Regions from separate parts of the Homo sapiens genome. Here region 2 is linked to region 1. The links come from fine-mapping of genetic effects on plasma protein levels. A gene starts in region 1. The other region holds a variant in brackets. All regions are shown on one strand. Distances are from middle to middle.

Region 1 (15,983 bases):
CCACCTCCCAGGTTCAAGTGATTCTCCTGCCTCAGCCTCCCGAGTAGCTGGGATTACAGGCGCCCGCCACCAAGCTCGGCTAATTTTTGTATTTTTAGTAGAGACAGGGTTTCACCATATTGGTCAGGCTGGTCTTGAACTCCTGACATTGTGATCCGCCCACCTTCGCAACTCTTAATCAAACAAGGTCCCAATCTTCCAGGAACAAAAAAGTGCCCAGGAGGCAGTAAAGAATAGTGGGATTAGCAGGCCCTAATTCATCCCCCTATAATTTGCTGTCTTTTCCTTAGAGTTCTCCAGTTTGCTCCTCCTTGCCAGTGTGTCTGATCTTTGGTTGACTCAGATATAATTCCTCTCTAGCCAAGGGAAGGACAAAAATCAATTTTCCTCTTTCCCCAAGTCCATAAGTGATGGAGTCTGTATTTTTAGCCTCAGTTTATCCATCTATAAAAGGGAGAATATAATAAAACGGAAAATGTAATAGCTACTTCATGGGGCTGTTATAAATATTTAAAAAAATTAAATGTACATGAAAATACCTTGCACTATACTTGGTACATTGTGGATGCTCAGTAAATGTGGTACATTGTGGATGCTCAGTAAATGTATCAGTTGCTAGTTGAATCCATCTGTTCTGAAAGTGGATATGACTGATATATCCAGTGGGCTTCCTTTAATCTAGGGTGACCAACTGTCCTGGTTTGCTCAGTACTGTTCCAGTTTAGCATTGAAAGTTCCACGTCCCAGGAACCCCTGCTTGGGACATGAAAAGTTCCAGTTTTTGGTGCTGGTTGGGGAAGACTGGGGGAAAAGTACATAAACCACATTGCTGCCCAAAAAATAGGGGCTGAAAGCAATACTAGTTTTAGTGTCAAATGGATAAGGTATAGATTATCTGCCTTTTGTAGTTGCTCTTGCTTATTTTTCCCTTGACCACTGATGTTGACAACCATGATTTGTGGTTCACAATAATGGAATATTCATTATAGCTTCACTCCAAGTGATGTGATTTAAGGGTCCATCTTAAGTGTGTTGTAATTGTGAGTGTTAACAGTCTGTTTTTTATTTTGACTGTGGATCAGCTGTTGAACTTTGTATTGAGATAGTGCTGGATTAATTTTTAACATTGTGAATATTATGACTATGTTTTCTAAGAGTTCAGATATTGAAAATAAGAACTATTATTATACTATTGCCAGCATGACCCAGATATCACTGCAAAGAAAAGACTAAATAACTTATTTTAATGATAGATGGAAAGACACATCCAGCCAGATCAGGGAGGTGAATAACGGAAACAAAGTATACTGCACCCTATTATGAAAAGAATTTGGGATTGGGCATGGTGGAGAAGGAGATACAAAAATGCAGATGAGACTGAATCTCACAAGTCTAGGATAAGAAATTCAAATACTTCTTAATCAATCAAAAGTATCTTATCCCTTCTCTTGCCCAAAAGACATCAATGCTCAGTGGAACACAGAGGCCACAGAATTAGCTTGGGCTTACCACATGAATGAACAAACATGCATTATTTTATTGTTCCTTTGATTGCTCCATGAAACTGAGTAAGGTTTTATTTCCTGATTATAGAAGTTGCAACTAAAAAGTCCTGTGGGCAAAAGAGGGGGAAACTGCTGTGTTAGCCCCCTGGCGTGTAGAGCTGATTCTGTCAGATCTTACCACTGATCATACTTTCTACCGTACATTAAGTGATGTGTCAAATCATAGCAACAAAAAATATTGTCCCTAGCTGTTAGGTACTTTGATTTGAAAAAGGAGGTTTCAAATCATTTTCTTGATTTCTATTAAGAGCTTAATAAAACTACAGAAAACACAAAAGATAATTGGTATTGTGTTCAAATACAAACTGGACTTTACTCAGCAATCTGCCTATTCAGCAGACAGTGCAAATATAAATTTTGGCAAATTCCATTCAGTCTATAAATTTCTTACCAAAAAAAGAAAAAAAATGAAAACACCTTACCTACTAAATAACCTGCATATCTTATATACAATACTGCTAAAAAGGCATATAATTTGCTTACCTGACATTGAGCCTTTTATAATGAAAATTTTGGGCCTCTTAAAAATTCCTCAGAACCTGCAGAAGCACTTAATAAGATTTTTGACTCTATAAAAGTAGAAAACACCTCTTTAGACGTGGCTGTCATTGTTGTCAGCCATAGAAAAGATATTAAAATGTTGGCCTGCCATAAAATCATATTTTCCAAGTGTGGGACAAAAGGATGTCTGTTTTAGTAGGCTTGGGCTGCCTTAACAAAATGCCATAGACTGGATGGCTTAAAAAGAGAAGACTGGAAAGCAAAAGAGAAGCGGATAAGCTATAAGCCTGCCTTTCTTCATGGTCCAGGACATGTAGCCCTCTTGTGCCCAAGGATCACCAGACACCTGCAAGTTAGCTCACTGCAACCTTGGTGTTAATCAGTACTGCACAAAGCCCTCTTCAGCATAAACACTATTCTATAAAATCTCCAGCAAGCCCTTTTTCTTTGCAGTCATCTCTTCTCATGTTGATTTGCTCATTGCTTTCTTGGAATGTATTTTTATACTTTGTCTAACAAATCTGCCTTTCTTTATTTACAACTGTCTTGGTGAATTCTTTTCCCCCTCCATGCCACGGGCCCAGCTAGTCATTGCCCACCCATGACACAAGAGAAATTTATTTTCTCATGGTTTTGGAGACTGGAAGTCCAAAATCAAGGTGACAGCAGGGTTAGTGTCTTGGTGAGGGCTCCCCGGGGTTGCAGTCCATAACAATGTTCTTCTTCAATTTGGAAATATATTGAGGTTGAGAATGGAGAAAAGATTATAGTTAACACATTTCTATGCTGTTTCTCCAAAACTGTTTGATGCTCTTTGAAGAGGCCAACAAGGAGCCTGACAAAGGATGAACTGACTACACCTGAGTCGTTCGATGGTTATGCATAGGTTGTTTCAAAAACTTATGCAGCAAAAAATGACTTGAGTTTTAGCAGATGATTTCAGAATTTCAAAAACTGTCACCAGGAAAGGGCAGCCAAGATAAACAGGATTTTTTTTCAATTTCTTTATTAAAGACTGTAACTTATTTAGAATACAACTTTAATTTCAAAAGATCAAATTACCTTTGTGCTTGTTCTTCACATGATGCATCATCAGAATGCAAAGCCAAGCAATACTGCACAAGCACACACAATGCTTCTGTTTGCTCACGTCTTATTGGTCAGAGTTAGTCCATGGCCAATCCCAACAACAGTGCAGTAAAGATATATGTTCTGCTCACAGCAGGGGGAAGGGGAGTAAAAAGGTTTGGCTGTGTCCCCACCCAAATCTCATCTTCAATTCCCACATGTTGTGGGAGGGACCCTGTGGAAGATAATTGAATCATGAAGGCAGGTCGTTCCCATGCTGTCCTCCTGATAGTGAATAGTCTCACGAGATCTGATGGTTTTATCAGGGGGTTCCACTTTTGCATCCTTCTCATTTTCTCCTGCCGACATCATGTAAGAAGTGCCTTTCGCCTCCCACCATAATTCTGAGGCCTTCCCAGGCATGTGGAACTGTAAGTCCAATTAAACCTCTTTTTCTTCCCAGTCTTGGGTATGTCTTTATCAACAGCGTGAAAATGGACTAATACATTAAATTGGTACCAGTAGTGTGGGGTGCTGCTGAAAAGATACCTGAAAATGTGGAAGTGGCTTTGGACCTGGGTAACAGGAAGAGGTTGGAACAGTTTAGAGGGCTCAGAAGAAGATAGGAAAATGTGGGAAAGTTTGGAACTTCCTAGAGATTTGTTGAATGGCTTTGCCCAAAATGCTGATAGAGATATGAACAATAAGGTCCAGGCTGAGGTGGTCTCAGATGGAGATGAGGAACTTCTTGGGAACTGGAGCAAAGGTAACTTTTGTTATGTTTTAGCAAAGAGACTGGCAGCATTTTGCCCCTGCCCTAGAGATATGTGGAACTTTGAACTTGAGAGAGATGATTTAGGGTATCTGGCAGAAGAAATTTCTAAGCAGCAAAGCATTCAAGAGGTGACTTGGGTGCTATTAAAGGCAGTTTCATAAGGGATGCAGAGCATAAAAGTTTGGAAAATTTGCAGCCTGATAATGGGAGAGAAAAGAAAATCCCATTTTCTGAGGAAAAGTCAAGCCAGCTGCAGAAATTTGCACAAGCAATGAGGAGCTGAATGTTAATCCCCAAGACAATGAAGAAAATGTCACCAGGGCATGTCAGAGGTCTTCACAGCAACCCCTCCCATCACAGGCCCAGAGGCTTAGGAGGAAAAAGTGGTTTTGTGGGCTGGGCTCAGGGTTCCCATACTGTGTGCAGCCTAGGGACTCGGTGCACTGCATCCCAGCTGTTCCAGCCATGGCTGAAAGGGTCCAATATAGAGCTTGGGCTGTGGCATCAGTGGGTGCAAGCCCCAAGCCTTGGCAGCTTCTACGTGGTGTTGAGCCTGCAAGTACACAGAAGTCACAAATTGGTGTTCAGGAACCTCCTCCTAGATTTCAGAGGATGTATGGAAATGCCTGGATGTCCAGGCAGAAGTTTGCTGCAGGAGTGGGGCCCTCTTTGAGAATCTCTGCCAGGGCAGTGTGGAAGGGAAATGTGGGGTGTGAACCCCCACCCAGAACCCCTACTAGGGCACTGCCTAATGGAGCTGTGAGAAGAGGGCCACAATCCTCCAGATCCCAGAATGGTAGATTCACCAATAGCTTGCATTGTGAACCTGGAAAAGCTGCAGACCACCCAATGCCAGCCTGTGAAAGTGGCCAGGAGGTGGGCTATACCCTGCAAAGCCACAGGGATGGAGCTGCCCAAGGCCACGGGAGCCCACCTCTTGCGTCAACATGACCTGGATGTGAGACATGGAGTCAAGGAGATAATTTTGGAACTTTAAGATTTGACTTCCTTGCTGGATTTCAGATTTACATGGGGCCTGTAGCCCCTTTGTTTTGGCCAATTTCTCCCATTTGGAATGGCTGTATTTACCCAATTCCTGTACCCCCATTGTATCTAGGAAATAACTAACTTGCTTTTGATTTTACAGGCTCATAGGCAGAAGGGACTTGTTTTGTCTCAGATGAGACATTGGACTGTGGACTTTTGAGTTAATGCTGAAATGAGTTAACACTTTGGGGGGACTGTTGAAAAGGCATGATTGGTTTTGAAATGTAAGGACATGACATTTGGGAGGGGCCAGGGCAGAATAATATGGTTTGGCTGTGTCCCCACCCAAATCTCATCTTGAATTCCCACATGTTGTGGGAGGGACCCTATGGGAGGTAATTGAATCATGGGAACAGATATTTCCCATGCTGTTTTCATGATAGTGAATAAGTCTCATGAGATCTGATGGCTTTGTAAGGCGGAGTTTCCCTGCACAAGCTCTCTCTCTCTTTGCCTGCTGCCATCCATGTAAGACGTGACTTGCTCTTCCTTGCCTTCTGCCACGATTGTGAGGCCATGTGGAATTCTAGGTCCATTAAACCTCTTTCTTTGGTAAATTGCCCAGTCTTGGGTATGTCTTTATCAACAGCATGAAAACAGACTAATATAGGGAGTAAATATTTGCTGAACAATAATGTAAGTTACCTCAGCCCCCTTCAAATGCTTCTGTGGGCCCCACCAATGACTTCCATTTGCTTCTTATTGGCTGTTCGTTTTTGCAAGGGAGGTTGTGAAATATATAATTTTTTGGCCAAGTATACTGCTTCCCCTTGAAATATACGAGTTAAGTGAATGAAAAAAAAGAATGTAAACTGGATGCTAACATTCTCTGCTGCAAAAGAAGTTTTTTTCTCATTCGTCATTCTTGGATTCAATAAATGTTTTTGAAAGTTTACCATGAGAAAAGTCCTGACTTGGATGTTGTAACTTATATGAGCACATTACATGGTTGCAGGAATCCAGGGAGTTAGGCTGGGCTGGGATGATGGTTCTTATCTGTCAGATGAGGAACCTGAACCAGTGGAGAGGAAGTGGCTTTGCTGAGGACCCATGCTTTGTGAGTGGTAGATTCAGTTTTGAACCTCAGTCTTCTCTGTCTCATTCCTTTATTCAGAAGCATTTATCAAGTAGCTACTTGGTACCAGGAAGATGGAGACAGAAGGCCCAGAATCGTCTTTTCTTCTAGGAAGTGAGAGTCACAGGAGATAATATTTGCAACAGAGAAACTTCAGGGGACATGCTGTGCTGGACCTTCAGGATGGGGAGGACTGGTGCAGGGAGGTATGTCAGGTTGGAAATAGGAATGTGTCAAGAAAAGGCTTTGAGATGGAGGAAACTGCCCTGAAGGAGGTTTATGAGTGTGTAAAAGGCTTGAAGAAGTAATCGGAGGTCAAACCTTGAAGGAGTCTGAAAGCTATGCTGCTGAGGAATTTGCACTTAATCCTGAGAGTTATGTGGAACAGGTCAGTGGCAGGCCCATGTTTACGTTTTGGCAGTAATGTGCAGGATGGATTGGAAAGAGCAAAAGTAGAGCCTGAGATGCTAGTTGAGTTTCTGAGAGTACTGTAAGTGATGACAAAAGTTTGAGCCAAAGAACTGGCCGTGAGGAGGAGAAAGATTCCAGAATCATTTAGAAAGGCCATTTGGATATGGGAGCCAAGGAAGAGGAATTGCGTCGTTCAGCAGTTCTCAGCCCTGGCTATGCTTAAAAAATATAAAGACACTCAAGCCTTGGAAATTTTGATTCAGTAAGTCTGGAATGGAGCTAGACATGGAATCTTATTAGAGAGTGGGCCTGTTGGGCCGCTGCCTGGGGTACCAGTTTATAAGAAACCCTAAAACGTCCTTAGAGCAAGTTGGAAATCTGCTAACTGGTGAAAGATAGACTCACTCCTAATGAACCTGGAGCACCCTGTCATGAAAATAATAAAATATTCCTCTCTAGCACCAACCTGTCCCAGTGGAGTGAGTTGAGTATTTCCTACTTGCAAGGTCTGCAGTGTAACCAGAGGCTCTGCCAACAACCTGGGAGCAGCCAACCACCAGTCAACAAAAATTTGGAAAGTAACAAAACATGAAGTGTTGTTTCCTAGAAGGGAGGGATTTACTGGTTATCTAAATTTAAAACCCTTTAATATAGCTTCCAAGAAGTTGCGGCCAGGCGCGGTGGCTCACGCCTGTAATCCCAGCACTTTGGGAGGCCGAGGCAGGTGGATCATGAGGTCAGGAGATCGAGACCATCCTGGCTAACAAGGTGAAACCCCGTCTCTACTAAAAATACAAAAAATTAGCCGGGCGCGGTGGCGGGCGCCTGTAGTCCCAGCTACTCGGGAGGCTGAGGCAGGAGAATGGCGTGAACCCGGGAAGCGGAGCTTGCAGTGAGCCGAGATTGCGCCACTGCAGTCCGCAGTCCGGCCTGGGCGACAGAGCGAGACTCCGTCTCAAAAAAAAAAAAAAAAAAAAAAAAGAATTACAAGGTGGAACTGAAGAGGAATGGAGTGTGCAATCTTAAATAGAGTGGTCAGAGAAGGCTTCACTAAAGAGGTGACACTTGGGCAAAGACCTGAAGGAGATGAGGGAGCAAACCATGGGGATATCTGGGGCATTCTAGGGAGAGGGATAACAAGTGCAAAGGTCCTGAGGTGGGATCTTGCCTGTAATATGCAAGGGACAATAAGAAGGTGAGTGTGTCCTGGAGCACAGTGAGAGAGAGTGTGCAGAGATAATGTTAGAGAACCAATGAGGGCCAAAGTGTGAAAGGACTTGTAGGCCCCTGTAAGATGTGGCATGTTACACTGCAGGAGATTTGAAGCCTCTGGTAGGTTTTGAGCAGAGAAATGACAAAAATCTGATTTATGACTCTTTTCAAGTAATTCTTCTTAAAAGTAATTTTATTCATGTTATTAGGATGGACCAGGATATGCTATAACAACAAACAATTCTTTACAGCTTAGCCATGTTCTTGTGTGACATTTTATTTGGCTGGGCTAGATCCTGCAGCAGCTTTTCCCAAGTGTGTTCCATGAGTCATTGGAGCTGCTTCTTTTGAAAAACAGTTCTGCTTCCAGTAATCCTGGAAATACTGGGCACTCTCTTCCTGTCTAAGTTAGTGATTTGAGACCATCATTAAAAATACATAAAATTGGAATAGAATAGAAAATGTCAGAGTGCATCACATGAAGTAATGTTTTATAAAACAATCTTTTAGTTACATTTATACATATATGTTTAATATATATCTTGTGTGGGGTCACAGTCAGAAAATGAGACTCAAAAGATCACAGCGTCTCCCTAAACATCTAAATAAAACCCTGAATGGTTTGTACTGTCCTCCACCCTCTTCCCTCATTTCCCAACCAGGGCTCAAACTCTCTGTCCTTTCAGTAGTCCATATGCACAGACAAGCTGCAGTTTGCAGTGCTACATCCTGCCTCCTGTTCCTGCCATATCAAGTCTTCCTCTTTGTTTCATGTTCTGGCAAATAGACTTGGATTTGCTAAACTGTTTACTGGCGATCTGGTCTCAGGAAAGTTACTTCACCTCCCTAATCCTGACTTTCCTAATTTGCAAAAGTTTTCCTTTTAGGATCGTTTGTGGTTATTAAATGAAATAATGTACAGAAAGCATCTGGAATGTTAAGGACCGAATACTTTCCCTTCATCTGTTCCTCCTGCCCATACACACATACACAATTTAAGGGGACTCTCTGGATCTTTGCTTCCCTTTAGAAGCACTGCCATCAGTGATAACCTCAGATCATTCTGGGGCAGGAGACTGCTGGGAAGATGCCTGTCTTCATCTAGCTAATGATGCTTCCTGTTAGTTTCAGTACTGGAGGCTAATTTTTCAGCCTGGCCCCCAAATTCTCTCAGAGCACCCTACTGCTGACTCTGCCTCGCCTCCATCCATTGTCTACAGGCTCTTAATAATCCTGGGGTCCAAACATTGGGCCACTGGGGGACACAAGTCATAAAGACGTCTGGGGACTGGTCGATGGTCATCCAGCTGTTAATAGTGGGGCTAGCCCTGATTTTGGGACTACAGAACCCCTAAGCCCAGGACATTCCCCAACGGGGAACGGATAGACTCTCAGGTCTTGCTCTGACTGTGCCTTTGTTGGCAGTAGGTGACTCAGGGGACACAAAGGCACTGTCTGTGCATCCAAAGCAGAGAGGTATCAGCCACTTACTTCAGTGACTTTAACAGTGATTAGTTCTCAAGGACAAAAACTCTTCATTGTTAATTAGCTTAGTGGTCAACGGATTTTCCTTCCAAATCCTCTTGGGGACTGAACCCAAACAAGGCGAAGAAGTGACAGTAAAAAAAGACTTGTCCTTCTGACAAGCGACAGTAAAGAAAAAGACTTGTCCTGCTTGGCAGGAGAGGGTGGCAGTTTGGGCAACACTCAGCCATATTGCTGAGTTGCAGCGAACTCACCAAGCACCCTCACACCTTAGAGGCGTCCCTCACCGTCCAGCCTTGGTGCATCACCCGTCAGGCGGGCAGTCAGGGCGTAGACCTTTCCTTCCTAGCACCTGGGCCCCTACTCCAGAAGACCAGAAGACTGCGGCTGGCCGAGCCCCCGGCAGGGCTTTTATTGTGAAGGGAGCTTCCCCCTCCCGCGCTTTCAGGGGAATGGGGAAGCTGGGCCGGGACGCGCGGCAGGGACTTTGCAAACTCTGCAAAAGTCCCGAGTAGACCGCAGAGGCTCGCGGCCGCGGGTAGGCTCCCTCAGATCCCCGTAGATCTCAGTAGATCCGGCGTGTATTCCCCACCCGCGGAGTATCCCGGTGTGCAGCGATCTCCCGAGAGTTGGCGCAGGGCCACTTGGCTGCAGAGAACGTGTGCACCTTCAGTCCGGGAAACCCGCCCCAGCCGAGTAGCCGCGCATCCTGGGAAGCCTGGCGAGCCACGGCGCCGGGGGCGGCCAAGGGGAGGCGGGATGAGTCTGCGAGCCGGCTGAGCGCGCCGAGGAGCCGGCCGGGGCACCGCCGGGGACATGGTAGGACTCGCGGGAAGGAACGCGCGAGCGGAGGGTGGGGCGATCACCAGGACAGGTGGCTGCAGTCAACGCGCAGCGGCCCAGGGCGCGCGCAGCCTGCGCGGCCTCCCGAGGCCGGAGTTGTTCCCCGAAAGTTGCATGGGGCGGCGGCGGCTTTCATTTCTGCACCAGAGCTGGGGGCGATCGGCTTTCCTGCCGCTCTTAGTGGGGCGGACCGTAATAAGGGGGCTTTTATTACTAATCTGCACTCCTTGACCTAACCGTAACCCACTCGCAACTCTGCAATCTTCATGCAATCCACAAGGCAGGGAGAGGGGAGCGTTCCCTGGGGAACCCACGGCAGCCTCTGATGAGATGCTTTTGAAGTCATTTTAATACTCTCCAAAGTTCATGTGAATTTTATACTATCTTCTCTAATTTAGCTATGTATTGATATTAAAAATAATGTCCTAACGTTTATTAACATTTAATAACTAAATTAACATTGAGTTAAATTGGCTCTAGTAAGGTTCCAATCCGCCTTCCTCTACCTCCCCGACAGGAGGACTGTTGGGCAGATGTGGAAGCACTGGTGGGTCTGGGATGTCACGATGAAACCAGGATCTTGTGGACGTGGCCCTTCCATTGATCAACTTCACAGACACTAACAGGCAGAAAAGAAAAACCCATCGAGAATGTGGCCCAGGCGGCTTAGCTAAAGGACACATGCAACCCCAGGAAAGGGGCGTCCCTCAGGCCCGGCCGCTGGTTAGTTGCTCTGCTTCTCCCGCAGCAGAAAACCCCTGCAACCCCAACTGGGCTCCTGCAGTTCACTGGGCTCCCCTGGCTGCTTCCGTGCCTGCTCGCCTCTTCCCTTTCCTTCCAAGCTCACAGAAGGCAGATCGGAACCCACTGGAGATGCTTTGTGGGGAGTTTTGCTGGGCCTGGGGTTTAGAAGGCTGTCTAGAGACTGCGCTGTAGGATGGAGGGTCTCTGTGAGAACAGCTCCTTTGTGTGCAGGGGGGCCTGGCAGGTGGCTGGAACAGAGGTGGAGGGCTGGTCATAAGGAGCTGGGGGCTCAGGGAAGGGTACCTTTGAGGCTAGGGGTGTGTGTATGTTTCACCCCTCCTAACACCTATCCAGCTTCAGGTTTTTTCTCAAAGCTGCTAAGAGAAGGAAATAGTGGAATCTTAAGCTTCAAAAGGGGGAATGATTGGGGGTACAGGATGTGAAACGAAAAGTGTGGAGATATCCTATTACAAATTCCCTGTTTAGGAGCAAGAGTGTTACCAGAACTCAGGCCACAGCCATCCACTCCGAGGGGCATTAGCATGCTGGAGTCTCCTGGCTTTAAAGGCAAATGTAGCAGAGGCTCTGTGGTCTGCGGCTGAAGCAGAGTGCCTGGAGGAGAGATGGTACCTGCCTTCTGCTCAGGCTGCCTAGGGGAACATTGGTGTGTTTGCCCCACTGCCAGCGTAAGCTTCCCGTTCTGTGAGTCATTGCAGCTTCCCGGTTTCACGTCCCTGGCTCTGGGTTCTGGTATTGTGTTAGGAAGAGGACTTGTGTCAACATTTCACTGTCTCAGGGTTCACTTGCAGAGAGAGGGGCCTGATGGTCATCCTCTGGCAGTGAAATGGCCTTGGAGATCTGAAGGCTGTCCTTTGCTTCTCCATCTGAATGAAGGGTCTTGAGGTCCAGAGACCACAGGGCAGCCTGGCACTGGCTAGAAGCAGCATGGGAGGAGACAGGGGGCTAGGAATCCTTTGAGGACCTTAGTTTCCTCTTCTGTTAGATGAGAGATTGGACTAGATGTTATTCAAGGTGCCATTTAGCTCCAAAAATGGGTGATATGTGAATAATTTTGAGATTGGATCTCAATTCTAGTGTTGAGCTGTGCTTAGCATGAACAACTAAAAAGGTGTGGGGAAGAAGTGGTTCTCAGCCCTGACTCAGGCTGCCCCCATCCCCCAGCCCAAATCCAGATGAGACCCAGACCAAGGGATGTTTTCAGGCTCTGCAAGTGAGCCCAGTGTGCTGCCAGGGCTGAGAACCACAGGGCAAGAAGGCTGAGAGAACGGGAGAAAGCTGGGGCTCAAAGCTGCACTTCCCAAGATATCCCTATGTCCACAGAGTGGTCATTCCTTGAGATAGTCCTAAAATAGTTTTTGGGAAATGATAGATGCTATATCATTTCCCATTATATGATATCACATATATCACATGCTATATCTCTTTGAGGGTCCTTCCACAGAGTATTGTCTTTTAATTCATTACACTGAGATTTGAACTTGCCCAGCTTGTTTGAATACGGTATCCTTTATTCAGTATTTCCCTAATGCCATCCTATTATTGATCCAAGATACGTATGATGGGAAACTCTGGGTTAGAAGTATACAAATAAAAGTATAGAATCCTTAAATGTCCTTTTGAAAAAAAGAAAAAAGAAAAGAGCATTGAGCTGCAGTATCTGCGGGGGCATTTTTGATTATCCTGAGGAGTCAGGGGTCATTGCCATGGCTTGGTGTGTATTTTTCTAAAGCGAAGATTGGAACACTTGTCAGTTTCTTTCTTTGCAGTGGTGGTGGGAGGTTTGGTGTTTGCCAAGGACTCTGTACTTGATGAAAAATATTGATAGAATCAGATATATATGTGTTGGGTTAAAAATTAAAAAAGAAAAATATTGATAGAGAAAGTTGAAACTATTACTGCCAATTAAAAAATGTTTTCCTCCTGATTTTTGAGAAAAAATACACAACTTCTACAGGAACCATGATTATCATTTTGGCATATTTCCTATTCTCTTTGAGTATTATTTTAAAGAGCTGAGATTTCACCACACATGGAATTTTGCAGTCTGATTTGTTTTACTTCAGTTTATATCAAAGCACGTTTCCATGTCTACATCTCTAGAAAAATCTTTTATAACCATACATTTAATGCTCAGTACCGTGATTTTGATAATCATCTCCCCATTTTTGGACATTTAGGTCACTTCAGGATTGGGGCTGATTTCAGTGGCATGTGGCCAGCTTCTCATTATCCATGGAAATGAGGACCTGAGTGCCCAGCTAAGTGGAAATCAGAAAAATTCACAAGAATGAATTGCTCCGGCCTCTTTCTCTATCCAAGCTCTTACTGTAACTACCCTCCCAGGGCCCAGCGTGCTGTGGGAGGAGTTTCCTCTTGCCTGTCTTCACTCTGTGCTGTGGGCAGGTCATCAGGCAGGCAGCAGTGGGGGCAATGGAGTCCCAGGGGAGCCCACATGGGCCAGTCCTCCTTGGGAGAACCAAGAGCTAAAATCCCTGGAGGTTAAGACTCAGAGGACAAGTAGCTGAAGCTGGAAAAGGGATGTGGCCTCTTTAGGGTCACTTAGAGCCAGGCTAGGGCCCGGGTCTCCTAGTTCTTCCCCTCCACTCTCCATGTAGGTCCTGTCACAGTCACTACAGCCCCATCATAGAATTGAGGGATGTGGTGTGGCTTGGAGTGGCAGAGGAAAGGCCTGGGGTTTGCAGTCAGAATGGGGTTTGTGCTGGGCTAGGTCACCGTGTGGCTCTGGGTAAGCGCTGCCTTGCTCTGAACCTTAGCCCCTTATCTGTAAAATGAGTCATTGTGAGGAGCAAATGGAGTCATGGAGGTGAAAATACTTGGTGTCTCAAAGGTGCTGTAAGATTGGGGGCTTTACAAACGACCCACAAAAATAGGTTTGCTTTTTGTTAGGGTCTAAAATGGTAAGGAAGTCACAGGTGCCTTTCATTCAATACCAGTCAAGGGGATGCTTCTGGGACTCTTCTCTAAGTAAGGATCTAGTATAGATGAAATTTACCCTCAAGTAGTTTTCTTGCTTCTTTAAGTCTCTCTTCTCATCAGGCAGGAAAACCCAGCCTGCAGATGTTCGTCCAGTCTGTCTCCCTTGCAGAATGCTGCTGACTGGATGAGAATGTAGCTCCCCAAACAGCCGCAGGTCCTTGGAATCTACTGCTGGGGTCCCCTCATTGAGTCCCTCTGCACTGAATGAGTCGCAGAAGTCATCAGGCTTAGCTAAAGAAGAGGTTAAACTGGTATTGGAACCTTGAAATGCAGCCCATGGAGCCTGTGGGAAATTTGATCCCCTCTCTCTTCTGGGGTACAGCCCTTACTTGCAGCTCCTGCTGCATACCTGACCCAGGCTTTGTGCAGGGCTGGGCAGGGAGCAGAGTGTTTTAAAGAATCTACTGGCCCCAACCATACCAAACAGAGGTTGATCCAAAAAACAGGGATGTCGGGGGTGGTGGGAACAGGCCTCACAAAGAAATGAGTTCCTTAGTTGTTTCAGGGACTAGTGAGAGAAACATGCTTCAGCTTGGCCTCAAAGATGCCGACATCCTTCCAATAGGTCTGGGAGGCCCAATGTCTGCTCCCCACCTAAGGTACTAGTAGAGACACAGAGTGCATCAGTTTTCTTTGAGGCATGGTTGCTGTGAGTCACCTGGGGCTGTCTTTGCTTGGATCATCTTGTGATGTGACTGCTAAAGTGTTTCTGCCTAGGGAGTTTAGGGCGTGATCCCTCATTTTCTGGATGTGTCTGCACAGGCCTGTGTGTGAAGGACCACTTGGCCTGAGATTGAGGATGAGAGGGAGCCATGATTGTGGGAAAATCCCAGGCCGCCCTTCTTTATGTGGATTTCACTTCCTATCTCTCTCTCTCTCTCTTTCTCTCTCTCTCACACACACACACGCTGACTTTCACACATCACACATATACTCATACACACACATGTGCACGCACACACACACTCACGCATGCACACATACTCTTGGGAGTGGCCTGGGATCTGGTCCTATTCCCCAGAGTCCAGCCTGTGGCTCCAGAACTGCCAGCTGAGTGGAAGATGGAAGGTGCTTTATAATAGCATCTGGTGAATCCTGGGGTCAAGGAGGCTAAGAGTGGAAGGAAAGCAGGATGAGGGCTGATGTGAAGGGTGAGGAAACAGCAGGAGTATAACTGAAATGCAGATTCAGTCACTCACCACTTGTAGAGTCCAATTAACAAGAGCAAGGTCTAGTATAAAGAAAGTGACTTTATTCTAAAGCTTAGCTTAGGGGAAGAGGTACAGGCTCCTGCCTTTAAGGGTACCGCTTTGCTTTAGAGCAGAAAGCAGGGTCCTTTAAATGAATACTTGGCATGAATGGCATGCAGGGGAGTGAGCAAGCAGGTGGGGGTCTCCGTGACTTGCTTTGGTGCCTTATCTACCAGGGAGTTGAGCTAGCACCATCACAGGCAGAGCTAGGTTGTAAGGTCATCGTTGTCTTGAGATACTCTCCAGGTGGGAAAGAGTTTTGGAGTGGGCATACTTTAGGTTGTAAATTGACTGTTATCTCTCGAGGCAAGCTCCTGGTGGAAGGTAGCTCAGGCTCTGGAGCTTCTAAGTAAGCACATAGTTAGATAAGCTTTTCATATAGGGAGTGTTTGGTGAAGGGAAGGTAGAGCTTCTAACTGCATTTCTAAAGAGCTAAGTAGGAAGCAAGGATTGAGGGAAAAGGAGGAAGATAGAAGAAAAAATAATTAAAAAAATAACTTATTCTCTTTGTCTTAGAAAAATGGGGGTACTCGGTTATAGGGGCCTCACTCTGATTTCTAGGCCTTCACAAGTTCTGAAGGAACGGGTGTCTCCATGGGCAGGGACTGAGTCTTACTCCCAAGTGACTTTGGAATTCCTGAGTGGCATATCAAGAAGGCCACAAATGGAGGATTCACATTCAATGTGTAAATGTGTGTTAATGCTCCCTCTGTCTCCCTGCCGTCTTGTCATTCATTCATTCATCCATTCATTTATAAAATGTCTGCTTTAAGCCAGACATTGTGTAGGGCAGAAAATAGAAAAATCAAAAATACATACCCTGCTTCTGAGGAGTACACAGTTTATTGAGGCTGCCTGTGCATACGTGTGTGTGTGTGTGTGTGTGTGTGTGTGTGTGTGTGTGTGGGCGGAGGCAGGGGAGCAGGTGGTAGGTGGTAGGTTCAGGGGAGAGGGAAGCACAAGGAAATGCTTCAGCCCTGTGGGCCAAA
Region 2 (15,983 bases), 78 kb after region 1:
GATACTAGCTTTAGTGATTTAAAATGAACTCTCTAACCCTGTCCTAGCCAACATTTTTATTAGTAGCCTGAATGAGGACATCTGGGCTGTAGGGGACCCAGCCATTCTCTCTGTAGTCGTTCCTCACAGAGCCCTGATTTGATTCACCTTCCACCTATTCCTGGATTCAGAGGCAATGGGTTCAAGGATCAGTGCATTAACGTCTTCCACTGATTGCTGTTGGTCCACTGATTGCTATTGGCCTCTTAATTTGGCTGAAGGGAAGACCTTCTATTCCACGGTTGTTGAGGGGAGAGGTTCCTTCTCTCTCTCCCCTTCTCTCATACTCTTCTTCTCTCTTTCCTGCTGGACATGAACAAGGAAACATATTCCCACAGCAACTACCTGCAGGCATCCTAAGACAACACTGGGATGCTGTTAACATTGTGGGTGGTAACGTGGAGGGCAGAAAGCAACCCAAGTCCTTATCATGATAATATGGAGCTGCTAAATCCACCCAACCTGCCCTTCCTCAAGACTTCCTTCTGTAGATAATCTCAATCTTCCTTATGGTTTAAGCCATTTGGAGTCAGGTTTTTCTGTTACTTGTGGCTGAAAACACTCCCATTGGTATAGTAGCTTACTGGTCTGGCGGCACATAACCTAAAATTGGCAGGGGAAGGAAAGGCAAATGAATGTGACAGCAAAACCATCCAAAAAAGATTCAATGGGTTGCAATGAAAGATTAAAGGAGGAAATGGAATAGTGTTAAATGCAAAGTCTACTGAGGGCCTGTGAGTCAGTGGTATAAAGGCAGGTTAATGAAGCCCTGGCTGAATGGACACATATGAGACAGAGACTTGCTAGTTTTAGACATGCACAATAGGTGTCAACAATATGATAAGATTGGTGAAGATGCTAATTCAGTCTTAGCATCTGGAATCAGGGAGGCGATGTTTCTGTGCTACTCCGTAACTTGATTCTCAGCTGTTGTGTCCAGTGCTAGGTACTAAAGTATGATAAGAATATTGACCAACAAGAGCCTGGACATGTGACAGCAATAGAGACCATGAGGGGTTTCTATCTAGGTTTGAGTTCCCCAAAAAGGGACTCTGAGACTAGAATTTGAATAGAGCAATTTATCTGGGAGGTGGTCCTAGGAAACCTGGTGAGCAAATGGGGAAGTGAAGCAGGGAAGGAAGAAAAGCTAATGAAGGGTACAGTAAAGAGCAGGCTGCCACCATGGGCAAGTGAGGCTGAACCCAGATGAGGGCCCTTGACAGACTGTGTAGAACACTGCTGTGGGGTATCATTCCCCTGGGAGGTGAGGGGCTATGATACTTGTACACTAACTGCCATAAGTCATTGTTTGAAGCTTGCTCCTGGAGGCATTTATTTTCCAGCACATTTGCCTGCTGCATGGGTGGGTCAAGCCTGTTATGGGCAAGAGTACCTCTACATATGGGGACTGTATGGTTGGGACCTTCTGTAGGTGAGCCCTAGGTTCATGGATGGAGAGCATCAAAAGCATCTACCATAGTTTCAGAACCCAAGTGTGTTTAACCTGGATGAAGGAAAATTCAGGGGGCGCATCACTTGGAGGGAGTTTGATTCCAAGCAACAGAGACTAACTCTGGTTAACATAAGCAAGAAAAGAATCTACATTTGGTAAGACATTAAGGGCTTCAAGGAATGGAAGAAAAAGGCCTGGGAAGCCTGAAGAGTCAGGGGAAGGATGGAGGGTATATGGTTAGGGGAGCTTGGACCCCATCCTCACTTCATGGCTGGGTGTGCAGGGTACTTGGATTGTTGATGCCACCAGACTGTATCTAGCAGGGAAGATTGATTCTCTTACAGGAAAACCAGGAACTCTAATGAGTGGTGTGCATGCCAATGTGTTTAGAGGGAAATTTCTAATGTCTGCAACTTACTTTGAAATGCATAAAAAATAAGAGATAAGATGACTTAATGGATAGATATAGAGATGTATCAATAGATATGTCATAAAGTAAGCATAATAAAATATTCATGGTAGAATCTTAGTAATGGGTATGTGGATATTCACCATAAAATTATTTCAAATTTGCTGTTTGAAATTTTTTATAATAGGGTATTAGAGGAAAGAAGAAAAATTGAATATTGGTTACCCAAAGTTCAGGAGGCCAAAGCAGTAAAGAGGGTACTCCTCAGGAAGTCTTGCTAATTGGCTTATCGCATGAACAGGGCTGTGGTTCTTTGCCAAGCTGGACCAATCTTCTGGGCTTTGTGCATTGGCCTCTGGGCTAAACTTGTTTTTTTTACTAGAATCAGTGGATATATTTAATCCATTTGGTCTACTGCCCTCAGCCTATCTAGACCTGAGATGTGCTTTCTCCATGTTTAACTGTATAAAACAGAAAATAATGTTTGGGGACAGTACTTGGGACTATTGAATGCTGTCTCATTTCTTAACATCTGGTTTTGTGAGATTAGTTGGTGACTAGAACTGTAGTTATTTTCTTGGTAGTTGCACTGGGATTACCATTAACATCTTGATTTATAACAATCTAGGTCAGATTACCAGCAATTTAATTTCAATAGTGTAAAAAGACTTTCTTTCTATATAAATCTCTCCCCCCCCACTTTTATGCTATTCTTGTCACAAATTACATCTTTATACATTTTCTGCCCATCAGTATAGATTATAATTATTGCTTTCAGCAGTTTTTTTTTTTAAATCAGAGGGGAAAAAAAGAAGTCCAGAACAAAAAAAAATACATTTATACTGTCTTTTATGTTTATCTATGTAGTTACCTTGAACAGAGCTTTTTAGTTCTTGACATTAATTCAAGTTACTACTTAGTGTCCTTTCATTCAACCTGAAGTCCTCCTTTTAGTATTTCTTGTAGAAGAAGCCTGCTGACAATAAACTCTGTTTTTGTTGTTCTGTTAATGTCTTCATTTCTCCTTAATTTTTGAAGGATAGTTTTGCTGTATATAAAATTCTTGGTTGACAGGCTCTCTTTTTTTTAATTTAATTTCAACACTTTGAATGTTATTCCTCTGCCTTTTGGCCTCCATGGTTTTTGATAAATTTGATATCAAATTACTCTTTGAAAGAATCCTTTTTATGTGATGAGTGACTTCTGTCTTGCTGCTTTTAAGATTCTCTCTCTGGCTTTTGACAGTTTTATTCTAGGTGTAGGTCTCTTTCAGTTTATATTAATGGAGTTCACTGGACCTCTTGGACGTGTAGATCAATGCTTTTCACCAAATTTGGGGAGGTTTTGGACATTAATTCTTCTAATATTATTTTCACATCATCCTCCCTTCCTTTTAAAACTCCTCTTATATATATGTTGGTACACTTGATGGTGTTACATGGGTCTCTGAGGCACTGTTTATTTTTCTTCATTTTTTTCTTCTTATTCCTCATACTTGATAATCTCAGTGGACCTATCTTCAGGTTTTCTGATTCGTTCTTCTGCCTGCTCATAACTGCTGTTCGATCCTCTCAGTGAATTTTTAAAAGTTGTTGTACTTTTCAACTCCATAATTTATATTTGGTTTCTCTTTATAATTTCTATCTCATTATTCATGTAGTCTTTATGGTGAGGTATCGTTCTCATACTTTACTTCTCTAGGCCTGATTTCCTTTAGTTCTTTGAACATATGTAAAATAGCTAATTTAAATTTTTTTATCTAATGTCTGGGCTTCCTCAGGAAAAATTTTGATTGATTGACTTTTTTCATGCATATTGGCCATACTTTGTTTCTTTGACTGTCTCATATTTTTTTGTTGAAAACTGAGTATTTAAATAATATAAGGTGGCCACTTTGAAAATCAGATTCTTCTTTTCCCCAGGATTTTTGTCATTGCTGTTTGTTGTAGTTGTTTTTGTTTGTAGTGGTTTTCTTTATTTGCTTGTTTTATTTTTATGAACAAATTCTATAGTCATCTGTATTCTTTATTGTATATGGCCACTGAAATTTCTGCTCAGTTAGTTCAGTGATCAGCTGATGATTGAGCAGGAGATTTTCATGAATTTCCGGAGCCAGTAAGTCTCCTAGTCTTTGCCAAAGGACTCTGTGTGTGTGTTGAGGCATCTCCAACACGTATGTATGCAATTGACAAATCTGCTTTTGCCTTCATTTGTGCTTGTATAGTCTCAAGGTCAACCAGAGGTGAGAGCTTAGGGTATTTTCAGTTTTTTCCTGAACATGTGCACAGTCCTACACATGTGCATGTGGCTTTCTAGATTTCCAGGAACATATTGGAGCTTTTCACAGCCCCTTGGACATTTCATTTCTTATCTTTTCCTTTTAAAGCTTTTTGGTTAATCTATTGTTTGTCCCAATTGTTATCCATTGTCTCAGACAGCCATGGTGTTGAAACATTTGCCAGTAAATGTTCTCAACAAATGTCCTCTACCCTTCCAGGAGAAGGCTTTTAGTACCGGGCAACCAAAAAACCATGCCTTTTAGTGGAGTTTACCAGGGAATCACCAGACACGTCAGATAATGACAATTTTCTTGCAATGAGGTCTGCTCTGCTCCCTTCATACTGAGTTTCCAGGTTCCCAGGCTGATGTCTTCCTCTCCAGTGTTGTTCCCAGGCTTTCTAATTCAGACTAGCCCTTCTGCAAAGATGGGATCAGAGTGTCCAATCTAGGTCTTCCCCACACCAGGCTCTTTTAGGAACTTAGTACATTTTGCAGCCTGAGAGTTAGATACCTACCAGTCATTGTCCTGACTGGTAGATCCCAGAGATCCTCAAGGCCTCCCCACTGACTTTCACCACCATCTGGGAGATTTAAGAAAACGACTAAAACCCCTAGTCCCATAACCTGTGGGGTCTGGAGCCCTTCCTAGGATTTGGACAAATCCCAAGGAGTAGATGGACTCTTTCTGTTTCATGTGCCGTGAGCACTACCTTGACTTGCCCCACACCAAACCTGAACTCAAAGCTCAGCATCCACCAAACATTTCACAAGGGCGGCAGCTTCACTGAAGGACAGAGAACTTGTGGAAGGGCACATCTCAGCCCCAGCCTCCTGCTGCTCCCTGCTTCCCTTCACCTTCTCTATTCCTCTGTCCTCCTCCTTCCACAGCAAGAAACTAACTTTTCTTCTTGTCCCATGCAATGCAAGTCCTCCCTCACCCAGACCTCCAGGGATTTCACCTTCTACCCTAGGCATTCATTGAGGTATTGCATCAAACCAAGTTTCCTTCATAAAAGGAAAATAGAATGAGTTTTCCCCGGCTTGCCCATCCTGTGTGTGATGGTGATTCCCTACTGCTCAGCCGCCCTCGCTTCATCTTTCATCCACTTCCTAGCATCTCCCAAACCTTCTCCAAACCAACTCCTCACTTCGACTATTCTCCCTTTCCTGTCTTTCTCCCCACAGCAAGCCCTCCCCTAACCATCCTCAGAGGACTCTACCACTTCTTGCTTGTATGCCTCTCCATCCTCAACCTCTTTGTCCTAGATACTTACAGCAGATACTATCCTCATGTAGGTCAGGGCTGGGGTAGACCCACGATTCTTCCTATTGCTGACTTTCAGGCTGCACCTTTCCTTCTGAAGAAAGCATCCCGGAAGCAAGTGAGTGGGAAGTGTGATTCTAGGAATCCTCTGATCCACTCTAAAATGCTGTGGGTGTCATCTGTATGTGTCTATTCAGGGGAAGGGTGGCAAAGCTCCTCAGAACTGACTGCACACCACATTGAGGATGTCCTCCTCTTTCCCTGGCTTGATTCAGGCCTGCTGCAGGGTGAAAGAGCTGTCCAGTTGGAGCTGTTGAGATGATCATTGAAGGACTTGCACCTCTAAAGAAAGGAGGAATCCCTGATGTAGCATTTGCTGCTTAAAGAAAAAATAGAGTGATGTGGAATCTCCCTAGGTAGACAGGCAGACGGTCAGCATTCAGAGCCTCAGAGGTGCCAGGCTAGAGCTAAAGAGCAACAGTGTAGGTTAAGCTGTGGGCACTGGGTGAAAATCCACACTGGCCTGAGGCATGAGCAAACAGCTCCTGGTGCGCAGAGTGATCTGGCCAGAGGAGGAAAGCGGAAGCCCCATTTAGTAATGACCAGCACAGAGAACCAGTGAGGGTCACCCCTGCTGTGGCCCCAGGGTCATGTAGGAAACAGCAGGTCAGGTGGCCTCCATGCTATGCCTGGTGGAGGCAGGCCCCCTGCCGCACCCCACCGAAGGCTGGGTGTCTCCACAGGTCCACGACCGCTTGGATCGCTACTGCTGTGGCTTCGAGCCTGAGCCCTCAGACCCCTGTGTGGAAGAGAGGCTCCGAGAGAAATGCCAGAACCCAGCC[G/A]AGCTGCGGCTGGTCCACATCCTGGTACGTCTCCTCCACACCATCCCCTTGTCACCCCAGACCCAGGTCTTTCTGTGTCCTTCAGAAGATGCTGTTAACAAGTTTCAGAGATCAGTTGATGCTGGGGTTTCCCAGTCTTGTTCTTTTCAGCAGCAGAACCAGTTGTTTGAATATTTCCAGGAGTCCGCAATATATAAAGCTGACAAAATGGAGCTTTAAGAATGTGCCTGAGGAGGGGTGTGGGGTGGGGGCTGGAGCCTTGTTTTCACTGTCTCCACTGCCCCTAAGAGACTCCAGGGAACAACTAGGGCTCCTGGAAGTAGAGTTTGAGAATGGTGTGTCTAGTCAACATCCTCGTTGTGCCAGTAAATGAGGAATTGCAGTCTGGAGGGAAAGGAATCTTCAAGGCCATACGCTAGCAGCATTAGGGCATGAACCCAAGACTGCAGTGGCTCACAGGCTGGTGCTGCTCCTGTCAAAACTAGAGTCCAGGGTGGGAAGCAATGTGCCGAGGCCATTGGAGAGGGCAGAATAGCCACTTCTTCTGCATAAGAAGCAAGGTGCTTCCCCCGGGGAAGGGCTTCTCTATCTTCTCCTGCAGTGAGGCATAGTGTCCTCACAGCCTCCCTTTGCTCTTAGAGGGTAGCTGTCAGCATGGTGTCCAGGGATGGGCTTCAGGGAGGCCGCATCACCCGAAGCCCAGGATTGCTTAGTGGTGGTGCTGGGAATTCTCCTCCCCTACCCCCAGAGCCATCTCTCCTTTTCCCTGGTCAAAGGTAAATATCCATGGGAGAGACAAAGTTTTAATAGCCATTGTTTACCCCTGGTGAGCAGGCATTTCACAGATCTTTTAGGACAGCAGTTTCCAGAGGGAAGAGTCACCTGGCTTTGAGCAAAAGGTGATCCTGACATGTGGAGTGGGGTGAGAAAGGAGAAGAGGCAGAGAGAAGGGAAGCTGGAGTCCTGGAAACAGAAGTTCATAGCTTAAGCCTAGGCCACTGGAGAGGATTGTGGGAAATGCCCATGGACTTTTGGAGGCTATTTGGGAAAGGAGTGCATGCATGGGAGTGGGGACCAGAAGAGATGGCCTCCCATTCGCAACCACACCATATTCTTTAAGGTACTAAAGAATTTTCTGGTGCTGATTTTGGTTTTGAAAAGGTTTAGGAGCTGCTAAACTCTTCTGTAGAATCAGATTATGGTCAGTGCTTTTTGAGGATAAAGGATATGTCTGTGATCTCAGTGATGCTCAGGGGGATGCCCAGGTGCACAGGCACAGGTGGCACAAAGGGGTGACTGAGTGTGTGTACACATGTGAGCAGCACATGTGCGATGCCCCTCACAGCCGGTGGCCCCGAGGAGCAGGCTACCTTGGCAACTGCTGATTCCCACCCTTGCTCCTCACCCCTTCAGCCACCAAAATAGGATCAGTCCTTTGGCCTTGCGATTTAGCAGATGGTGCTATGGCTTAGCCCCATGGGTCCGGGTTTGAAACAGCCCAGCTACTTACTAGCTGTGTGATTTTGTGCAAATTGCTTAACTTAAAGAAGGTGCCACCATTTCTGTAAAATAGGGCTAACACTAGTGCCTGCTTCCTAAGGTTACTGGGAGAATTAATTGACAGGATGTCTGGAAGCACTTAGCACAGTGCCCAGCATAGAGTAAGCACTCAGCGGTGAGGACTGTTTGTTAGGATGGACTGTGGGACTGACAGCTCAGGGCTGTCAGCCCCTTAATCTTGACCAAGTCCATAGGTGCCAGCCGTAGCTGCACCCTTACCCACCTCTGTCTCTGTCCACCCTCTTCCCTGAGGTCCGGAGCAGCGATCCATCTCACCTGGTCTACATCGATAACGCTGGCAACCTTCAGCACCCTGAGGACAAGCTGAACTTTCGGCTGCTGGAGGGCATAGATGGGTGAGGGTCAAAAGGGTTGGGTGGAAGTTCATGGGACTGAGACCTGATGGCCTTGCTGCAAACCTTGGGACCTTCAACTGTGGCCCTGAGAAGCCCACAGTCCATCAGACAGAAGTTATTGGATCAGAACTTTAGGCGGTGGTGGGGAGCCCTGGGAAAGCTGAGAGGGGATACAGTTGGCAGGGCCTACCCCAATATCCAGAGGGCCTCGTGCCTGCAGAATACTAGCTGTATTGCTGGGGTGTGGGAAGGCTAGTCCTTCCCTTGTTCTGGGTGAGAGAGCTAGGCCAGAGAGTCTACCCCTCCCAGCTCACTCTTGGCAGGCAGCTCTGCCTTCCCAGGATTCTTTCTGGCCCTGCATTTGCCAAGTGGAGCCTGGGATAGCGGAATTTATTCACCTGGCTTCTCTGTAGGATGGGACCCATCTGAAAGGTCTGTCCCCTGCCTTCACAGCAAAGCCAGGCAAAGGGTCCTCTGTTAGTGAGATAGCAGGTGCAGGTCTGGGGAGTTTGCCAGGTGACTTTACCAGAGTTCCTCAGCTATGCAAGCTCTGGCCATCTGGCATCACCTGTTACTGAAATTCTCTGAGATTACTGTTGCTTTTTCTTTCTGTTACGGGGCTCTGGGGCCTTTGCTCCAGGTTTCCTGAGTCTGCCGTGAAGGTTCTCGCATCAGGGTGTCTACAGAACATGCTGCTGAAGTCGCTGCAGATGGACCCAGTGTTCTGGGAAAGCCAAGGCGGAGCCCAGGGGCTGAAGCAGGTCCTCCAGACCCTGGAGCAGCGAGGACAGGTGCTGCTGGGACACATCCAAAAGCACAACCTCACACTCTTCAGGGACGAGGACCCATAAGCCGCACACAGCCCTGAGTCAATGAGCATCCATCCTGATGGCCACATTTTCTTGGGCTCACTCATCTTGAGGACAAATGGGAAAAGCCAGAAGCCAGAGGGGCACAAGGATGTCACGGGATATTTCACCTGCCTGGGATGGTGGAGGTAGTATGGGGTTTTCAATCTCAAAGCGTCCCTTTCTGCCTTCTCGGCTCTGGCTATTTATTCCCTTGCACCAACAAATACATTCGAAAATGTTCTGTGAGCTGCTCAAGAAACTGTAAAAATGTGTGATGCACGTGCATATGCAGAGTGGGAGAACTTTGTGTGTGTGTAGAGGTGTGTAGGTGTGGGTGGCATGTGTGCCCGCCTGCATGCAATACCTGAGACCAACCTAATAAAGGTACAATCTTCATAGAACTGCACTTGCAGCCTGGAGTTGCTCTGGCTGAAAGTAGACTCAGGCTTAAGAAATGAAACATAATGCGTTTGTCTTTATAGACTTTAAATTTTCAATTATTACTCAGTTATGTTTTTGGTTTAAAAAATTATAAAAGTCTAAAAGTAATACATGCTCAGTAAAAACAAGTCCATAAAAAATAGAAGCATATGACAAAAAGCATAAGTCCCACAAACTCCCTAGCGGTGTGTATGTGTGTGTGTGTTATTCATGGTCACACTACATGCAAATTAAAAAATGAAAGTGTGGTCATGCTTTGTCAACTCACTATATTTTTACTTTATTAACTATATTCTGTATCAGCCATCTGAATTGACCCAATCTTTATTGGTGACTGCATGAAATTCCAAGGCAGGGATGTGTCATATTTTCTTTAGCTGGTCCCATAATCATGAACATTTAAGTAGCTCCAATTTTTCATCAATTACAGACATTGCCGCCATGAACATGATTGCATGGCGTGCAAGTATTTCTGCGAGGTAGATTTCCGTACGGGATTTCTGGGGCAAAGGGTATGGGCATTCAGTATTCTGAGAGAAACTGCCAAATTGCTCTCTGAAATGGTGGTGTCAATTTACATTTCTCCCAAGAGGGTAGGAGACTGATTATTTTTCTACACCTTCACCAACACTTGGCATTCTCAGACTTTTGGGTTTTTTTTGGCCTATTTAGGAGGAAAACCGATTTTAAAAGCTGCATTTCCTTAATCATGAATGAAGTCATCTTTCCACTTATTTGCCAGACATTTGTATTTTCTTTTCTGCATTGTCTTTTTGTTTTAAGATGTTTGCCCTTTGCTTGTTAATTTGTTGGAAATCTTTGACTCTAATAAGTGTGATCAATCTTTTCTCTGCTGACTTGGTATAAATGTTTTCTTCCAGCCTCTAATTTGTCTCTTAACTTTGTTTATAGTCTTTTGCCAAGTGTAAAATGTTAATTTCCACGTAGTCAAATTTGTTTATCCTTCCCTTTAAGTCTTTTGAGTTTCATGCCTTCTTAGAAAGGCTGTCACCACTTCAAGATTATTGAAATAATCTGTGTTTTATTCTAGTATTATACAGTATTTCTTATATATTATATAGTATTTCTTATATATTTTCATATATTTCATATATATTCCCTCTAAATTAATATATAAAACCTATATTTTATATGGATTTAAGCAGAGAATGGTGTGAGTTAGGGATCTAACAAGTTTCATTTCCCTTCAAATGGATAGTTAGTTGCTGTAACATTATTTCATAGTCCATTCTTTCTTTACTGCTGTGAAAGTATACTTTTATCAGATATTAGGTTCCCACATGCACAGAGGTCCATTTGTGAACTCTGTTCTGATATTATTTTTCAGTTCCTGCATTAGTATGACAGTGTTTTAATTAAAGTTACTTTATTCTTTTTTGCTGTCTGGTAGGCTGAGTTCCCATATTTTTATTCTACTTTAGTTTTTTCCTTTGCTATTTTTGTGCATTTGTCTTTCATGTGATAATGTCAGTCTATGAAGCATGCCACCCCTCTCCTTTTATCCTCAAAATCCCATTGGTGTTTTGATTGTGATTATATAGAATTTATAATTAGTGGGAATCTGACTTATTTGAATATTGAGTGCTCTCATTCAGGTTTATCAATCCACCTATTCTTTGATAATCTCTAGCAACATTTTTTTGTTTATTGAGACAGGGTCTCACTCTGTCACCCAGGCTGGAGTACAGTGGCAAGATCTCAGCTCACTGCAGCCTCAACCTCCTGGGCTCAAGTGATCCTCTCACCTCAGCCTCCTGAGTAGCTGGGACGGCAAGTGCACACCACCGCGACCAGCTAATTTTTGTATTGTTTTGTAGAGATGGGATTTTGCCATATTGCCCAGGCTGGTCTTGAATTCTTGAGCTCAAAGCATCTGCCCATCCCAGCCTCCAAAGTGCTGGGATTACAGGCATGAGCCACCGAACCCGGCCTCTAGTAACATTTTAATGTTTTCTTCAGCAAATAAGCTCATTTTAAAGATAGTTTGCAATTTCTACTCCTATTGAGAATGAGTTCTTTTTCTTGATTAGATTTTTCTAGATAGAATTTTAGGTGCATATCTTATAGTTTTTAAGTAGAAAATAATATTTTCAAATAATGATAATTTTACATTTATATTTCATAAGTGTGTGTGTGTTCTCCTCTCATTTATTTCTATTGTCTTATTACTTAGGTTGGGAGCTTTCTGGAGGAAAATTGAGTAATAATAGCAACAATAGTAGGCATCCACATCTTATTCTGGACTTTAATGGGAACACCTCTGTGGTTTCTATTATGTTTTGTCAGGTTTAAAGAAATCATTTCTGATAAATATCTTTCATTAAGTTAAGGAAGTTTCTTTTTATTCTTAGCTTACTAAAACCATTTTTCAAAAATCAAGAATGGGGATTGAATTTTATTAAATGCTCTTTTCAATATCTATTGAGCATATAGTTTTTCTCCTTTATTTTCTAATGCTGAATAATCTTTACATTCTCAGAAAAAACCTATTAGGCTGAGGTATGTTAGTATTTTGGGAACTGCAGAATTTAACTTGCCAATATTTTACTTAGAATCTTTGCATATACATTCATAAGGTTTTCCTTTTTGGGCACTCCATGGCTGTCTTACTATTAAATTTAAACATACCTCATAAAATAAATTCAGAATTTTATTTTATCTTTTTAATGCTTTGTAAGAGTTTAAATAAGAACCATTTATTCCTCAAAAGTTTTATAGCACTCTCCCATAAAACCATCTGGGCCCTGTGCCTTTTGCTAGATCTTTTACAACCTAATGTAGGAGATAGGTAACAGGGGCCTGCAATAAACCAACATGCCTGGCATATTCAGTGGGCGTGGAAATGTAGAAGTGTCCTGGGCAAGACTCAGGCCCTTGGAAAAGGGAGTTTGGATTTAGAGATTTCAGGCATTTCTCTTAAGGTCACCAATGTTTATTTGACTTTGACTTTTTGTCTTTTCTCCTCTCTTCTTCCTGTGTTCTCAGTTCTTTCCAAGGATACCCTTATCAAGTGATGCTGTTCCTCTAGGCCTCAGCCAGTTTCTGTTTAACAGTCTCTGCTTTGCCTTCTGCCTGGTAGACCTACACTCAGCCAGAGGTGGGAGTGAGACACTTGTCATCCTAGAAAATGGCAAGAAGAAAGGAATACAAAGAAACATTTCATTGCAAAACATAATGTGGAGCTCTCACATTAGGATGAGGCTCATTCTACTTTGTGACTTAACCAGCCGCTTTGAAATAAAACAGATCTAATCCTGTCTCACCACCGAGAGACTGACATGCAAGTGGACAATGCCCAAACTACATATAATAATAAAACTCTATCCACCACCTCTGTAGCAACCAGCTCAGAGAACCAACCACAATGTCTGTAGCATCTGCTCAGTAGGGTGAAGACCTAGTCAGTGACTGCCAGCTTCCTTATTTTTGTCCCTACTTCCAACTCAGGATCAATCAGAGAAAGCCAAATATGCTCCCCTAACCAATCAGTTAGGATGCCCCACCTCTAGTTTGCCCATCTCCAGTGTCTCTCATGCCAGCAGCCTCCAATCAGGGTGCACCTGGAGCCTTCCCTTTCTTTCTCACTATAAAGCTTTCCCAGTCCCTGCCTGTCTTGGAGTCCCTGCCAAATGCAAGTGATGGTGCTGACCCCCTTGCCGTAGCAAGCCTCTGTCTGTTCTCCCTTGGGTGGTCTTTGTTGATTTCCATACTGCCTGGCTGTAAGAATTAAACAAAGTTAACTAGTAATCCAGGTGAAGGCACTGGCCCGGCAGCTGGAAGGGTAGGCAAACTGAGCCACATTCTGAGAGCAGGTTTCCTTTACACTGAAATGGGGCAGAGGTGGCCGCCTAAGAAAGGAGGGGAAATCTGCCTGGCAGGGTTGCCTGGTTTTGTGGTGTGTGTGTGTGTGTGTGTGTGTGTGTGTGTGTGTGTGTGTATGTAGAGTTTCTCTTTGAAAAGACCAAGCCAGACTCTTCCTGTCAGTGAGCAAGGCCCCAGCTTGCACCAAGCCCTTTTGTGTGCTGATGTGAACAGGTCTGCTCAGCATAGACAGTGGGGGCACATGGGCAGATACGGAGTGGCCCCTCTCAGCCTGCCCAGTGCACAGCAGCCACTTGTAGCACTGTGGCATAGGACCCAGCTCTCCCTCCTTAGCTTATCTGGGAAGGACACCATTTCCAGGCACTCCCATCAACACTGACCTCTTCCTACCTGGGGCGGGGAGAAGGGCAGACTCCCTAGGATAGGTGGTTTACATGGATCAAAGCATTTAACCTCACAGCAACAACATGGGGAGGTGTGATTGTTACTCTCTCCATTTTACAGATGAGGCACAGAGGGGTTAAATAACGTACCTAAGGTCACCCAGCTTGTAGGTAGAAGGGTGGGACTTCAAACCCATCAGGAACTGTGCTAGCAAGTCTCGCTTCCAAGACCACCGCTTTTCCCACCACACTCCCCAGCCCAGCCACCCTGACAGTTCCTCTTCTGCTAATCCCTTTGGATTCAGAAGGATTAGCAGGAGAAGAACTTTCTGTTAAAGATGTGGCAGGGCTGGTTCTCTAGTCCAGGGAGCCGCAAACTGCAACTCCTGGCCAAGCACATTCACATGCATTTGGCTCTTGGCTTGTTAAAGTCTGCCTAATCTATTAGCTGTGTCTTTCCTGCAAACTGGAAACTTCATCCACTTTTATCCTTTTCAAGAAAGCCTCTTTGCCTCAGTGCTTGCTGTTCACCCAGCCATTCCCTCTGGAATGAGAACCATGTGCCAAGTGAAGCAAACAGCTGGGAATCAGTATGTTCCCACTAAGCGTAGAAGAGTCTGTAGGGTTGGAGCTGCCATGGGTCTGCAGTGGGTGGGGTGCCGTGAGGGTTCTGCTCCGATTCAGACAGATGAGCCTCAGAGGCTCTGCTGAGGCAATCACAATTGCCAGCCTCCGTGCTGCCAGACAGGCCTCACCCCAGGTCCAACCTGCTCCTCCTGCATCCCCAGCTGAATGGGCTGCTCCAAGAAAAATGATGGTTTCCAAGCTAGAGGAGCTGAAGATAGTAACACAGGTTCGCAACCTTCTAGATGCGATACCAGCAATTCCCCAGAGCATGAAAATCAAAAGCTTTTTTGTATGTTTGGTGCTAAAACTCATGTCCCACTCAGTGTGAATATTTATACAACTTACTGCAGAAATAGTGATGTGTTGGGTTATTGGGTGTAACCTCGGACTCTGTTGAGGGCACTGCATAATGCACGGCATGTGAACCATATTACCTTTCTAAATCTGAGAGATTCAGAATTCTGAATCACATCTGGCCCCCAGGGTTTGAGTATGGGATTCTGGACAGACCTGTAATAACTCATGCTAAGGGCTTTACACATCTTATCTCATGAATGACTAACAACAACCCCAATTTGATTATGGTTACCCTACAGATAAGGAACAAATGACAGAGGTAGCGGGGAGGGAAAAAAGAGAGGTGGCTTGCCTGAGGCCACACAGATGGGAGCAGCAAATTTTTACCCGTGATGCTGGACAGATGCTTCAGGGATCCTGAGATCTTTGACTTCAGAAGTTTCCAAGGTGGAGGCCCTGGGTGTGGTGCATCTTGGCGATGTGGCCACAGCAGCATCTGAAGGCTCTGTGGTCCTGAGGCCAGAGCCCTGTTCAGTGCAGCCCTTCCTAAACTTATTTTGTCAAAGAGCCCTTCCTTTGGTTTTTTTGTGGCCTTTGTGTTGCTGTTATCTTTGTTTTACAGATGAGGCACAGAGGCGTTAAGTAACGTCTGTCAGCATTCCTCAAGATGCACTTTGAGTCATCCTGACTTGGCTGAAACCCCTTTGTTCTGCAGACAAGGATCCTGAAGTCCAGAAAGGCCTGGCCAAGGATGCAGGCGATGGCTCTCCCCTGGAGGGGTGAATGCGATGCTCCTCCTCCCCTAGCCACGGCCCCCACCCTGAGTGGAATGTCAGATGTGGGTTCCCTGAGTTGGGTTGGGAGCCTGGAGATTGGAAGGAAGCCAAGCAGCTCCTTGGCCCGTTCATCCCCCATGAGGCTGGAGGGATGTGAGGAGCCAGCCCACGTGCCTCAGTGGTCTGAGGTTTAACTGACTTCTGCCATACTGTAGGCCCGTGCTGGGCAGACTATTATCAACTGAGTGGAAGTAGGAAGCATGAGTGCTTATCCTCCTCTGTCTGCACCCCCAGGCACTCTGTGTTTCAAAGGCACCAGAGAGGTTGTGGCTGATCCAGAGAGTGAGTGCTCCGATGGACGAGAGTCGCGGTTGGAAGAATGGGCAGAAGTTCCCATAGCCTGAGCCATCTGGACGGCAGGGCTCTACCCAGGCTGGAGGGGCTGCCCCTCCTGGCAGGAGCTGGTGTCTTCCTTGTGCTCTGATTCCTGCAGTGTGCAGCTCACATGCTTGGAGCCCTGAGCAACCTCCTCAGTGCAGGAGCTCTGGGCTAGCCCCACCCC

Which allele goes with the higher level. Alleles are on the strand shown, and positions count from the first base shown. The strength of an association depends on the size of the effect and on how common the allele is.
For the plasma level of the protein whose gene starts at base 9,624 in region 1, allele A in region 2 goes with a lower level than allele G (weak association).

The links. A credible set is the group of variants that fine-mapping cannot tell apart. PIP is the chance, under the fine-mapping model, that this variant and not a neighbour inherited with it causes the effect. The UK Biobank Pharma Proteomics Project read protein levels with antibody pairs (Olink). The fine-mapping took linkage between variants from a reference panel, not from the people measured, so its PIPs are less certain.
Region 2: its variant is the best candidate, but not a certain one, in a credible set for the plasma level of the GASK1A protein (UK Biobank, PIP 0.65). The variant lies in the coding sequence of GASK1A. If it changes the protein, the assay may bind it differently, which can mimic a change of level.

The regions. Positions count from the first base shown.
Region 1 is chr3:42,969,688-42,985,670 of GRCh38, forward strand. It overlaps GASK1A (golgi associated kinase 1A), which reads left to right and starts at 9,624. Exons shown (of 5, transcript NM_001129908.3): 1 at 9,624-9,958. The coding sequence starts at 9,956. RefSeq lists enhancers at 14,147-14,647, 14,648-15,148.
Region 2 is chr3:43,047,333-43,063,315 of GRCh38, forward strand. GASK1A (golgi associated kinase 1A) reads left to right here. Exons shown (of 5, transcript NM_001129908.3): 3 at 6,189-6,311; 4 at 8,100-8,203; 5 at 8,844-10,383. The coding sequence ends at 9,054. Among named protein-coding and RNA genes, the nearest start is that of POMGNT2-AS1, 31 kb to the right of the region's middle. RefSeq lists an enhancer at 15,243-15,762. The variant G/A (reference allele first, on the strand shown) is at 6,288.